Linked DNA regions of Homo sapiens. The gene in region 1 interacts genetically with each later gene. Each region holds a gene or a part of one and is shown on either strand. Other genes may lie near its edges.

The links.
Region 2: changes in BCAT2 (region 1) and MMP25 together harm fitness more than expected from each alone (negative genetic interaction), as found in Homo sapiens cells (one large-scale study listed by BioGRID).
Region 3: changes in BCAT2 (region 1) and SLC5A5 together harm fitness more than expected from each alone (negative genetic interaction), as found in Homo sapiens cells (one large-scale study listed by BioGRID).
Region 4: changes in BCAT2 (region 1) and PRODH together harm fitness more than expected from each alone (negative genetic interaction), as found in Homo sapiens cells (one large-scale study listed by BioGRID).

Annotation. Positions count from the first base shown.
Region 1 is NC_000019.10:48,804,510-48,808,076, reverse strand, and holds part of BCAT2 (branched-chain-amino-acid aminotransferase, mitochondrial isoform a precursor), read left to right. Parts: exon of another isoform or gene 1-708; intron 709-1,002; coding exon 1,003-1,077; intron 1,078-1,359; coding exon 1,360-1,560; intron 1,561-3,567. UniProt on the Homo sapiens protein: Catalyzes the first reaction in the catabolism of the essential branched chain amino acids leucine, isoleucine, and valine. May also function as a transporter of branched chain alpha-keto acids.
Region 2 is NC_000016.10:3,058,836-3,061,235, forward strand, and holds the end of MMP25 (matrix metalloproteinase-25 preproprotein), read left to right. Parts: coding exon 1-263; 3' UTR 264-1,891; downstream 1,892-2,400. UniProt on the Homo sapiens protein: May activate progelatinase A.
Region 3 is NC_000019.10:17,881,915-17,885,481, forward strand, and holds part of SLC5A5 (sodium/iodide cotransporter), read left to right. Parts: intron 1-45; coding exon 46-158; intron 159-234; coding exon 235-305; intron 306-1,766; coding exon 1,767-1,853; intron 1,854-1,935; coding exon 1,936-2,132; intron 2,133-3,567. UniProt on the Homo sapiens protein: Sodium:iodide symporter that mediates the transport of iodide into the thyroid gland. Can also mediate the transport of chlorate, thiocynate, nitrate and selenocynate.
Region 4 is NC_000022.11:18,933,463-18,937,574, forward strand, and holds the start of PRODH (proline dehydrogenase 1, mitochondrial isoform 1 precursor), read right to left. Parts: upstream 2,832-4,112; 5' UTR 2,826-2,831; coding exon 2,553-2,825; intron 1-2,552. UniProt on the Homo sapiens protein: Converts proline to delta-1-pyrroline-5-carboxylate.

The DNA.
Region 1 (3,567 bases):
TTCACGTCCATCTTCCAGAATCAGTGCCAACTCACCCAGCTCACAGGGCAGGCCAGGCCAGGCCACTCTGTCTCTCTCAACCTCACGCCCCAACGCCTCCCCACAGGGCTGGGGAAAGAGGCCTTGTGAGGTCAAAGGTCACCAGAGAGGGCCCAGCCTGCTGGACACAGCCAGACCTGCTCTTCCTACTCCCCTCTGGGAGGACCCGCCTGAGCCTCATGCAGTGAGGACTGCAGTGGCTCCCCAGGCCCCTGTAGCTGCCCCTCAGCCCCAGGGGCTGAAGGGAATTGGAGTCACTGCCAAAATGGGTTTGTATTTCAGGTAATCAGAGCCCAGTTGATCGAATACCTTCAGAGAATAAGCACCTGTACTCCTGGGTCTGGCGGAGGAGGGGCTGGGGAACTGGACTCCTGGGTCTGAGGGAGGAGGGGTGGGGCCTGTACTCCTGGATGTAAGGGAGGAGGGTCTGAGGCCTGGACTCCAGGGTCTGAGGGAGGAGGGGCTGGGGGCCCAGACTTCGGGTCTGAGGGAGGAGGCAGCTAGAGTCTGGACTCTTACTTAGGTCTGAGGGAGGCGGGCCTGGGGTCTGCACCCCTGAGCTCTGGGGGAGCAGGACCTGTCGGTCCTTGGTCTTCTAAGGCCTGTCAGCACTTGGGTACCCGGAGGCCTTCACTTACCTGTGTGCCTTCCCTGGTTGTTTTCTTGTCTGAGCTGATCTCCAGGCTGCGACCAAAGGTCTCTGGGGTGGGAGGCGCTTGCGTTTGACTTTGCCGCAGCATGGAGGAGGGGGCGGGAGCTGACTCAGCTCTTTCCAGCGAGCCCTCGTCAGGGCAGGGAGGGGACTTGGCCTCCTTCAGGACCACCTGCCCCGTCTAGAATGGACTGAAACTGGGACAGAACAGGCAGGCCAGTGGGACCTCCAAGTGCAGGAGGTGGCGAGCGAGCTGCCAGGGCCCCTGCTGTGCCCCACTCACCCCCTCTCTCACTTCTTTCTCCACCCAGATCTGGGCACGAAAGCTTCTCTCTGTCCCTTGGCTTCTGTGTGGTCCCAGAAGATATGCCTCCTCCAGTTTCAAGGTGAAAGGAGGGAACTCGATGCTTGGCTCTGAGAGAGGAGGGGGCTGGCAGCTGGTTTTGGGCATCTCCAAAAGGTCCACAGCCCAGAGATGGCAGTGAGTGGTGGTAGCTTAACAGCCTGCCATTGGGCCGCAGACAAGGGATGAAACTGCATGTCCCAGAATCCTCCAGGGTGACAGGTCCTTCTTCTCTATGGGTCTGAGGCCCAGGGCTTCATGGGAGTTGTAGTTTTTCAGCTGGGAGGTTGTGGCCAGATTCTAGGATACCCCTGTCTTTCCTCAGGCTGCAGACCTGCAGCTGGAAATGACACAGAAGCCTCATAAGAAGCCTGGCCCCGGCGAGCCCCTGGTGTTTGGGAAGACATTTACCGACCACATGCTGATGGTGGAATGGAATGACAAGGGCTGGGGCCAGCCCCGAATCCAGCCCTTCCAGAACCTCACGCTGCACCCAGCCTCCTCCAGCCTCCACTACTCCCTGCAGGTGGCATGGCGGCCGGCCTCTCTCCCTGTCCCTGTCTGCATCTCCTCCTCCTTGCTGTGTCTCTTGCCAGGTGTACCTCTCTTGGTTTGTTTGTTGTGTGTTTCTCCTTTCTGTGCATTCACCATTTGTTTTCTGAGGCCTTCCATGCTCCAGGCTCATGCTTGGTGATGCTGGGTTCCCCGAGATGAGCAGACCCGGTTCCTTCACTTGGAAAACCCCATGCTGTGGGCATAACTCAGTATGATCTGTGCTCTGATGGAGGCCCTGTGGAGGCCAGTAGAGACCCCCAGCCTCACTTGAAAGAAAGCATGGCTTCTTCTGGCATAGAGGGAAGCTTAGAGGGGGATGGTGGGAGAGGTGACAGGGTGATGGTAGGAAAGGGGACAGCCGGGGGGCTGGCGGGAGAGGGACAGCCAGGATGATCGCGGGAGAGGGGACAGCCATTGGGGGGGGAGATGGTGGGGGAGGGCACAGCCAGGGGGATGGCTGGAGAGGGGACAGCCAGGGGAGGGATGGCGGGAGAGGGGACAGTCAGGGGAGGGATGGCGGGAGAGGGGACAGCCAGGGGAGGGATGGCGGGAGAGGGGACAGCCAGGGGAGGGATGGCGGGAGAGGGGACAGCCAGGGGAGGGATGGCGGGAGAGGGGACAGCCAGGGGAGGCATGGTGGGAGAGGGGACAGCCAGGGGAGGGATGGCGGGAGACGGACAGCCGGGGGAGGGATGGCGGGAGACGGACAGCCGGGGGAGGGATGGCAGGAGAGGGACAGCCGGGGGAGGGATGGCGGGAGAGGGACAGCCGGGGAAGTGATGGTGGGAGAGGGCCAGCCGGGGGAGGGATGGCAGGAGAGGAGACAGCCCAGGGGGGATGGCGGGAGAGGGGACAGTTGGAGATGGCGGGAAGGGGGACAGTCGGTGGGGGATGGCAGGAGTGGAGACAGCCAATCCAAACCCCAAACGGGAGTAGAGCCTGGTACATTTGGGAGAAATTGCGGTGTTGGAGCATGGTTAAGGAGGCTGAAAATGTCAGGGCCATGGAGGAGCTGAGGGGCTGGGGCCTTGTCCAAGGGTGCTGGGAGCCACTGAGGGCTCTGAGGAAGGGAGGGGCAGGGCCATGTCTGGGTATAGTAAGAGCCCTCTCAGGCCATGTGGAGGGCAAGAGTTGCAGGCTAGGAAGCCGGGCTGGTGACCAGGTAGACCTTGGGCCTGTCCCCACATGGGGACCCAGGAGGAGGAGCGGCTTTGTGGCACCTGGTGAGCCTGAGATACTGTGAAGTTTCTAGGAGACAGATCCAGGAGGCATTTGGTTTTAGGACTTATAGCTGCGGCTGAAAGCAAGGTCTTCAGAAGGAAACTTTGGTTGAGACAAGATTTAAGTGAGCATCTTACAGCTCCAGTAACTGGTTAGCAGGTTGGCTGATTTTAGTCCTCCAGGGCACAGTTCTGTGGCATGAAGACTTTTATTCCATTCCTTTCTTTCCTTTCCCTCCCTCCCTCTGTTTTTTCCTTTCTTCCTTCCTTTCCAGAATTTTAAGGTTTTGTTTTTTCCCCTCTCCCCTCCCACTCTGGACATCTAAGCAACACCAGTCGATTCTGTACAGAGCACACACACCTCCAATCACAGCCAGACACTCCTGCCAGTACATAAGCGTGATGGGCAGGATTCCGCCTGCTGAGCCCCCAGGAAGCTGGTTACTTGGAGACCACCACACACTTCTCCCTTCAGCCCAGCACAGCAGTTGTCCTCTGGCTGGGGACCCAGTACTTTTTCTTCAGCTGAGTGAGAGCAGAGGAAGCCTGTGGCCCTGGCAGACAGAACGCACTGCTGTGATCCCGCGGGTCCAGGGGGCGGAAGGGGGAGGATGAGGGAGTAGGACAATGCTGTCCCTATGTCACCCACACTCCAGGGCATGTGTGGATTGCAGGCCGACCACGTGTATTATTTTTTATTTTATTTTTTCTTATTTATTTATTTAGAGACAGAGTCTCACTCTGTCCCCCAGGTTGGA
Region 2 (2,400 bases), on another chromosome or scaffold:
ACTTCTTCAAGGGCGCCCACTACTGGCGCTTCCCCAAGAACAGCATCAAGACCGAGCCGGACGCCCCCCAGCCCATGGGGCCCAACTGGCTGGACTGCCCCGCCCCGAGCTCTGGTCCCCGCGCCCCCAGGCCCCCCAAAGCGACCCCCGTGTCCGAAACCTGCGATTGTCAGTGCGAGCTCAACCAGGCCGCAGGACGTTGGCCTGCTCCCATCCCGCTGCTCCTCTTGCCCCTGCTGGTGGGGGGTGTAGCCTCCCGCTGATGGGGGGAGCCATCCAGACCGAACAGCGCCCTCCACGGCCGAGTCCCCCGCCGCTGGACCTGGTCGGGGGTTGTGAGGCGCTGCGGAGGCCCCTTGTCTGTTCCCACGGACGGGGGCTCGGGCGCGGACTAAGCAGGGGGGATCTCCCGCGCAGGGGCGGCGGCGGCGGGGACCGGTCGCCTGGCGCTGGGCTCAGTCTCCTCAGGGTCTGAGACCCCGGCGCTGCCACCGGAACCCGCCTTCAGGGGCGCACGCGCGCTGGGACCATGCGTCGGTCGTCGCCCCCGTCGTTCCCTCCCGGCTGCCGCCAGGGGGCGGTCGGACCCCGCCTCCCGAGCCCGGGGAGGGGCGGGGAGGACAAGGGGCGGGCCCGCGGCCTCACCCGGAGGGACGGCAGCCCCGGTCGCGCGCTGGCCCCGCAGGACCTTCCTTTTCCAGGAAGAGCCAGCTTTTCTCGGAGCGCAGTCCTGGGACTCTCCGCAGCCCCGCCCCGCCTGGCCACTGCGTCTGGCATTCCTGGGTCGTTAGAGGACAGGCCTGACTGCGAAGCTGTGCCTTGCCCCTCTCCCACCCGCAGTTTCTCACCCCGTTCTGCTCCCACAAGGCCCCCCTACAGTCACTGCCACACTGGTGGGGACCTGGGACCCAGACCCGGAACCAGCCCAGATATCACCCCTGAGGACCCATGCGCCACGTCCTGGGTGGTGGAATCAGTGGCTGGAGGGACGACCCTTGCTCTCCAGGCTGTTAACCTTTTCCGTTGCTCCCCCGCCACCCACCTCCTCCTCCCCAGGCCACCCAACTTGGGCACCTCCCTGGGCCCAGAACTGCCTTCCATTCAATGGGGAACCCTTCTATCCCCAAGAACCCCTTCCCTGCTTGCACCCTGGAGAGAACAGCTTGACTCCCATCAACTCAACGCTGGTGGAAAGACAGGGACCGAACCCTGGCTCAGGCCTGGTCATTGCCTCCTCAGCACTCCCTCCTGGGAGGCCTTAGCTCTAGAGTGAGGGGTGGGTGGAACCTGGGGGCACCTCGTTCACCCTGTCCCCACTCCCCACAGTTTTAGGATCTAAATGATTGCCTCTGGAACTATTCTTCTAGACTATCCCACATCAGAATCACTGGGAAATTTAAGTTTGCAGATCCCACACTCACCCTGAATCCTCACTCAGGGTGGGGTCAGGAATCTGCATTTTAACTAGTCGCGGGGATTGTGGGGGGCAGTAGCTGGCTGTTTCGTGGCATTTCTGTGGCTCTGCAGTGTTCCTCCACCCCAGGACCAATATGTTCAGGCCACACCGATGGCCTGAACCCCATGGGTAGAGTCACTTAGGGGCCACTTCCTAAGTTGCTGTCCAGCCTCAGTGACCCCCTAGTGCTTCCTGGAGCTGAGGCTGTGGGCGGCTGTCCCAGCAACCATGCGAGGGGTTGCCCCAGTTGCTCATACAAACAGATCAGCATGAGGACAGAAGGCAGGAGACTTTGGTCAGTTACCTGGGAATTCTGGGCTGCCAGGAAACGATTTGGGCCTCTGTCAGTTTCTTTTCCATGTATGAGGAGGGGGAAATTTGTATATTAGAAACTTATTCATCCCACTCAGGACAATAAAAACGAATGTACAAAAAGCCCTTCCATTCTTCTGAGCATTGATGGACCTGGGGAGAAGTGTGGTGGCAGGAACTGGACTGACCTGAATCTCCCTGCTTCGCAGAAGGAATCCATGGTTGATGGGGAATCTAAGAAGGAAGAGTGGGCCCGGGCGTGGTGGCTCATGCCTTAATCCCAGCATTTTGCGAGGCCCAGGCAGACGGATCATTTGAGGTCAGGAATTTGAGACCAGCCTGGCCAACACTGAAATCCCATCTCCACTAAAAATAGAAAAAAAATTAGCCAGGCATGGTGGTGCATGTCTGTTATCCCAGCTGCTAAGGAGGCTGGGACAGGATAATCACTTGAACCCGGGAGAGGGAGGTTGCAGTGAGCCAAGATCTCACGATTGCACTCCAGCCTGGCCAAAAGAGCGAGACTCCGTCTCAAAAATAAAAATAAAAATAATAATAATAAGAAGAAAGAAGAGTGGGAGGACGAAGTAGAGAGGAATCGAAAAGTTGGTTATGGGGCACCCGGAGGACGG
Region 3 (3,567 bases), about 31 Mb from region 1:
TCTCTCCATATGGCCTGAGGACCCCCCGCTGCCTTCCTCACACAGCACAGCATCCACCAGCATCAATGCTATGGCTGCAGTCACTGTAGAAGACCTCATCAAACCTCGGCTGCGGAGCCTGGCACCCAGGAAACTCGTGATTATCTCCAAGGGGCTCTGTGAGTTTCAGGGAGACCTGGGTGGGAGGCCAGGGCAGTCCCTCCCCGTTGACCGTGCCATCCTCATCCACTACAGCACTCATCTACGGATCGGCCTGTCTCACCGTGGCAGCCCTGTCCTCACTGCTCGGAGGAGGTGTCCTTCAGGTGAGACCCCACCTGCCCCCTGCCCTGGTCTCCTGAGAGGTGGGGGCACCTTTCCCTCTTTCCCATTAAACTGAGGCTCAGAGAGGTCACATGTGTCAGTGGCAGAACTCACTTCTATGTTTTTTTTTTTTTTGAGATGGGGTCTCACTGTGTTGTCCCAGGTTGGTGAGCAGAGGCCCGATCATAGCTCACTGCAACCTCCAGCTCCTGGGTTCAAGCCATCCTTCCACCTCAATCTCCCAAGTAGCTGGAGTTACAGGTGTGTGCCACCATGCCTGGCTAATTTTTTTCTTTTTTCTTTTTTTTTTTTTTTTGAGGTGGAGTGTCACTCTGTTGCCCAGGCTGGAGTGCAGTGGCATGATCTCAGCTCGCTGCAACCTCCACCCCCTGGGTTCAAGGAATTCTGCCTCAGCCTCCAGAGTAGCTGGGATTACAGGTGCATGCCACCATGCCCGTCTAATATTTTTGTATTTTTTTTTCTTGAGACGGAGTCTCGCTCTGTTGCCCAGGCTGGAGTGCAGTGGCACCATCTTGGCTCACTGCAAGCTCAGCCTCCTGGGTTCACGCCATTCTCCTGCCTCAGCCTCCCGAGTAGCTGGGACTACAAGCGCCCGCCACCACGCCTGACTAATTTTTTGTATTTTTAGTAGAGATGGGGTTTCACCGTGTTAGCCAGGATGGTCTCGATCTCCTGACCTCGTGATCCGCCCTCCTCGGCCTCCCAAAGTGCTGGGATTACAGGCGTGAGCCACCGCGCCCAGCTTATATTTTTGTATTTTTATTAGAGATGGGACTTCACCATGTTGGCCAGTCTGGTCTCGAACTCCTGACCTCAAGTGATCCACCCGCCTCTGCCTCCCAAAGTGTTGGGATTACAGGTGTGAGCCACCACGCCTGGCCTGGCTAATTTTAAAACTTGTTTTTAGAGACAGGGTCTCGCTTCGTGCCTAGGCTTGTCTTGAACTCCTGGCCTCAAGCAACCACCCGCCTCAGCCTTCCAAGTCGCTGAGATTAAGAACTAAGTTCTATTTGATGCCAGAGGCCATCAGGGGACTTTTTTGCAGCTGGCTGGCTTGGGGTGGGGGAATTGGGAAGGGGGAGGTGGCGACAGAAAGGGCCTCCCTATGGAGGTTGCAGTGAGCCAAGATCGCGCCACTGCACTCCAACCTGGACAGCAAAGTGAGACTCTGTCTAAAAAAAAAAAAGAAGAAGAAAGGGTCTCCCTGGCTTGAGGGTGGGACTGCCACCCCCAAGAGATAATCAGTGTCTTTGCCTCCAACCCAAGGGAGATAGGCAGGAACAAGGGGGGGGGGTCCTCTCCCCTTTAGGGAAACTGAGACACAGAGGAGTCCTTGAGACCCACATTGGAGTTCCTGAGGTCTCGCTTTCCCAGCGGGTAAACTGAGGCCCAGAGCGGTGGGAGGGCTCCGCCCTCAGCCCCACTTCCACCTACTCTCCCAGGGCTCCTTCACCGTCATGGGAGTCATCAGCGGCCCCCTGCTGGGAGCCTTCATCTTGGGAATGTTCCTGCCGGCCTGCAACACACCGGTGAGTGGGGGCGGGGCAAGGGGCGGGGAGGGGCGGGGCCGGACAGGCCCCTCCCCTTCCCTGACGCCGGCTCTGCCCCCAGGGCGTCCTCGCGGGACTAGGCGCGGGCTTGGCGCTGTCGCTGTGGGTGGCCTTGGGCGCCACGCTGTACCCACCCAGCGAGCAGACCATGAGGGTCCTGCCATCGTCGGCTGCCCGCTGCGTGGCTCTCTCAGTCAACGCCTCTGGCCTCCTGGACCCGGCTCTCCTCCCTGCTAACGACTCCAGCAGGGCCCCCAGGTGAGCAGACTTGAGGGTAGGGGGGTACCCGAGCCCTGGATGGTGTGATCTTGAAGGGAAACTTACTTGCCCTGCACTCTGTGTAAGAAGCCTGATTAGTAAAATGCATTCCTGGGGGAGGGAACGGTAGGTGCAAAGGCCCTGAGGCCACAATCGGGTTAGTCCCAGTCCAACTGCACTGAGGTTAGGGTGCATTTAATGGGAGGAGAGATGGGTGGGAGATATGGTGCAGCCAGAGGAAGCTAGTACTTTTTTTGTTTTGTTTTTCTGAGACAGAGCCTCGCTCTGTGGTCCAGGCTGGAATGCAGGGGTGCAATCTCAGCTTACTGCAGCTTCAACCTCTCAGGCTCAAGCAATCCTCCCAGCTTGAGGGAGGCCCAGAATTTGGTTTGGTTCTATTTTTTATTGAGATAAATTAGCCATTTAAAAGTGGCATTTAGGCCAGGCAGGCACAGTGGCTCACACCTGTAATCCCAGCACTTTGGGAGGCTGAGGCAGGTGGATCACCTGAGGTCAGGAGTTCAAGACCAGCTTGATCAACATGGGGAAACCCCCGTCTCTACTAAAAATACAAAACTTAGCCAAGCGTGGTGGCAGGTGCCTGTAATCCCAGCTACTCGGGAGGCTGAGACAGGAGAATCGCTTGAACCCAGGAGGTGGAGGTTGCAGTGAGCTGAGATCGCACCACTGTATTCCAGCCTGGGCAACAAAAATGAAACTCCAACTCAAATAAATAAATTAAAGTGGCATTTAGTATATTTGTGCAACCATCACCACTATCTAAGTCAAGAACGTTTCCTCTTTTTTTTTTCTAATTTTGTATTTTTAGTACAGATGGGGTTTCACCATGTTGGCCAGGCTGATCTTGAACTCCTGACCTCAGGTGATCCGCCCACCTCAGCCTCCCAAAATGCTGGGATTACAGGTGTGAGCCACTGTGCCTGGCCCCAAAAACATTTTCTATTTTTTTTTTTTTTTGGAGCAGGGTCTTGCTCTGTTGCCCAGGCTGGAGTCCAGTGGCACGATCATAGCTCACTGCTGCCTCAACCTCCTGGGCTCAAGGAATCTTCCTACCTCAGCCCCCCTAGTTGCTGGGACCACAGGTGCACACCATCATGTCCTGCTTGTTTTTATTTTTATTTTTTGTAGAGACAGGGTCTGGCTATGTTGCCCAGGCTGGTCTGGAATTCCTGGGCTCAAGCGATCTGCCCACCTCAGCCTTGCAAAGTGCCAGGATGACAGGTGTGGGCACCCAGCCAACCAAGAACATTTTCTGTTTTGTTTATTTATTTATTTATTTATTTTGGTTTTTTGGGTGGGTTTTTTTGCTTTTTGTTTATTTGATTTTTTGGAGACAGGGTCTCACTCTAACACCCAGGCTGGAGTGCAATGGCACAATCACAGCTCACTGCACCATTGACCTCCAGACTCCGAT
Region 4 (4,112 bases), on another chromosome or scaffold:
ATGGGGTTTCTCCATGTTGGCCAGGCTGGTCTCAAACTCCTGACTTCAGGTGATCCACCCGCCTCGGCCACCCAAAGTGCTGGGATGACAGGCATGAGCCACCGCACCTGGCCCCAGCTAACTTTTAAAAATATTTTGTAGAGACAGGGTTTCACGATGTTGCTCAGGCTGGTCTTGAACTCCTAGCCTTAAATGATCCTCCTGCCTTGACCTCCTTAAGTGCTAGAATTACAGGCATGAGCCACCATGCCTAGGCATGAGCCTAGGGCTTGTAATTTTAAAGCTGACTCCACAGCAAAGCAACCACTTTAACACCATCCTGGTGTCACTGATGTCCCCGCATGGCACTACCTGAGACCAGGGCAGCCCCACATCTTCTTCAGGTGAGGAGATCCTTCGAGGATTTAGAAACCTGCACCAGTAACACATACACTTGTACCCCCTGTGAAAGACTCAACCAAATGTGTGCAGAGTAACACTGGTAGAGCCGGTTCTCTCCCCTCCCCCCACTCAGGGAACCACTGTCACCACGGGTCCTGTCCCTTCTGTGAGGGCGCACACCCAACCTCAGTGCTGTTGTCATGGAAATCCTGGGACTTTCCTAAACCCTCCTCAATAAGTCTGGCTTTCAGGCAAGGGCGGGCCCCACTGCTGTCCCCATCCAAGGCAGCAGCTCAAAGATCAGCTACTACAACCTGACACGCCTGTGGCAGATGTGGCCTCACTGCCCGGGTGCCTCACAGACCTGTGCTGGCTCAGCAGAAGGAATCTCCCCACAGCCCAGAGGGTGAGGGAAGGAACTCCCCTCTGGCCCGCTCACAGGACCAGGTTCTAGTGAGCAGCTCACAAGCCCAGGACCTGGCCTCTGCCTTCTTCCAGTGCTGAGGCTGCCGACACCCATGGGACCACTAGCAAGACAACAGTACAGACCCCACTGAGGGACTTCCCAGGGCACAGGTGGGACCCTAGGGGAGCCTGGGAGAGGTCACCTCTGGATGCCCTGCCTCTTCCAGGTACTCACAGCACCATCCCTGAGCCCTGGCACTTGCCTCAAGAAGGCACCCAAGGGACAGCGGAGCCAACAGTTTCCTCCCACAGTCACGGAACAGCACCTGGCATTCCCCGCAGCAGACTGGGCACCAAACCCCACACCCAGCTCTGCTGGCTTCTCTGTGCAACAACTTGTCTTGAATCTAGACAAGAAACCTTAGGGCTGTGCCTACAGAAACCTGACCTGGTGCCTTCCTAGCCCCCTCCCCATCCCAGCCATGCTTAGGGCTGTGCCTACAGAAACCTGACCTGGTGCCTTCCTAGTCCCCACTCCATCCCGGCCACAAGGTGGGCATGGCTTCTGCACGACTGGCCCCAGCTGCCACCTAGCATGCCCGTCCTTGCCCTGGGCAGGGACCTGTGGCTGGCCACTCCCTCCCCTGGCATTTCTGCCCTGCTGCCTCCTCCTCCTATTGCAGCACCACCAGCACTGGCTCCTCTTTTGGGATGCCCCTTAGATGTGGGCACTCCCCAAAGCCTCCACATCGCCGTCCCTCACCTTGCCAGTTCCTCTACCTGGGATGTCCCTTCTCGCCCTCCTGTCTCCTTGGCCGGGGCTCTCTATGACCAAAACTTGACCTTAAGACATCCTTGTGTGCACACACAGCAATGCCCTCCCAGAGCCCTCCATCTGTCCAGTTCAGCTCCTTCTTCCTCCACCATCCTCCGCACTCCCGCCACCACGGGTCCTAGGCTGACCTTGGCGCTCCCCATGGGATTCGGGCCAACAGCATCTGACTCTGAGTTCGTGGATCCCTGCCCTCACCTCGCACCCGCCGAGGCCTCACCTAAGCTCAACTGTGGCTCGGTGCTTCTCATCTGACACCGTCCCCCGCCTTCCCCCGCCTCCTGTTGAGGCCAGGGGTGCAGCCCCCGACCTCTGTACAGTCTCACCTGAGAAATCAACACCACCAGATACCCTGGCGCCAAAAAGCGGAACCTTGCAAACTCTTCCCAGGGTCACCTGGAGATAACCGTCATCTCTAGTACCCCTAGGCTGATGCGGCTAAAACAGTGTTCTGCTTGTTGCCCCCCACCACCGCCACCAAAAGCCCTGACACTTTTTAAAGCTACCATGGGTGAGTTCAAAGCTGGGCGTTTGAGGGGCTTCCCATTTTTCCCCAACAGTGTTCTCAGAGTGGCCGTGTCTGGGAAGCTGCTGGGTCCCGGGGTTTGAATTCCGGGGTTCCAGGCTATGAGCCCTACACCAGGATTCTCTTGTCTCAACATGAAGAATACTCCATTTTAAATTCCAAGTGATAACTCTGTATTCCCACAAGTGGTATATATCGTAAATATGAAAACGACCATTGTTTTTAGTTGGTAGACATCGACAAATAGGAAAATTTGCGAGGTCCGAGAGGGACTGCAGGAAACGCCTCCCTTCCTGGCTTCCCTTGCTCCAGGAGATGCTTGGGAGGCACCCGTTTCAGGCCAGGAAGCTCCGTAAAGGCTCCCGGGACCGGCAGAAGCCCCCGCGCCCCCGCCTGCACCCCGCGCACCTGCTCGTGGCGCGCCAGCAGCGCGGGCCAGGCGCACAAGCGCAGCACCAGCAGGCTCCGCGCCAGCTCCCAGGTTCGCCGGCTGCGGTACGCCTCCTGCGCGTTGCCGAAGTCCACGGCGGGCACCGGCGGCCGCACTGCCGTGGCCGACCCACCTCCTGGCACGGCCGCTGGGCCCGCTGCGGGCTGCTCGCGGGAGGCCGGCGCCGTGGACAGCGGGACGAAGCGGGGAATGCAGGGGCGCAGCGCGGGCAGGGCGCGCCTCAGAGCCATGGCGGGACGGCGGTACCCGCCCGGGCCGCTTAAGTGTGCGCTGTTGGTCCCGCCCCGCCCCGCCCCGCCCCGCCCCGCCCCGCTCGGTCCCAGAGGCCTCACCCTATATTCCTGACAAATGCCAGACAAGGGCTTAGACTTCACAAGCACCCTGGCACTTCAGCTGCATGGTGGGGACCCTCTGCCGGCAGGGCTGAGGCCAAGGCCCACTGGCTTCTCAAAGCCTCTGCTCCTGCTCTCCGTGAAGACAGCAACAGAGTGAGACCCTGTCTCAAAACAAAAATTATGTATTTTCAGATAGCTTGAAGGAGAATATTGAGTGTTCGTAATGCAAAGAAATAATAAATGTTTGAGATGATAGGTATGCTAATTACCCTTATCTGATCACTATACACGTACAGAAACATCACTACGTACCCCACAAATATGTACAATTATTATGTGTCAACTAAAAAATAAAAATAGCCGGGTGTGGTGGCTCACGCCTGTAATCTCAGCACTTTGGGAGGCCGAGGCAGGAGGATCTTTTGAGCCCAGGAGTGCCAGAGCAGTCTGGGCAACATAGTAAGACCTCGTCTCTACAAAAAATAGAAAATTAACCAGGCATAGTGTTGCATGTCTGTAATCCCAGCTACTCAGGAGGCTGAGGTGAGGGGATTGCTTGAGCCCAGGAGGTTGAAGCTGCAGTGAGCTGATTGTGCCACTGAACTCCAGCCTGGGCAATGGAGGGAGACCCTGTCTCAAAAATAAAAGTGAATTTTTTTTTTTTGAGATGGAGTCTTGCTCTGTCTCCCAGGCTGGAGTGCAGTGGCATGATCTCAGCTCACTGCAACCTCTGCCTCCCGGGTTCACGCCATTCTCCCACCTCAGCCTCCAGAGTAGCTGGGACTACAGGCGCCTGCCAAGCCTGGCTAATTTTTTATGTTTTTAGTAGAGACGGGGTTTCACCGTGTTAGCCAGGATGGTCTTGATCTCCTGACCTTGTGATCCGCCCGCCTCCGCCTCCCAGAGTGCTGGGATTACAGGCGTGAGCCACCACGCCCGGTGAATTTTTTTTTTTAAAGAAAGATTCCGGACACAAACGGCCACAAGTTGTATGGTTCGTTTTATATGAAGAGTTCAGAATAGACAAATCGATAGAGACAGAAGTCACACGAAGACAAGCCCATAGTGGAGCCTGGTGAGTATGGCACTGGCAGTGGTGCCTGGAGGTGGAGGACGGGAGGAGTGGGAGGGGCTGCCAAGGCCCACGGAGTTTCTTTGGGGTCCGGAAATACTCTGGGGCTA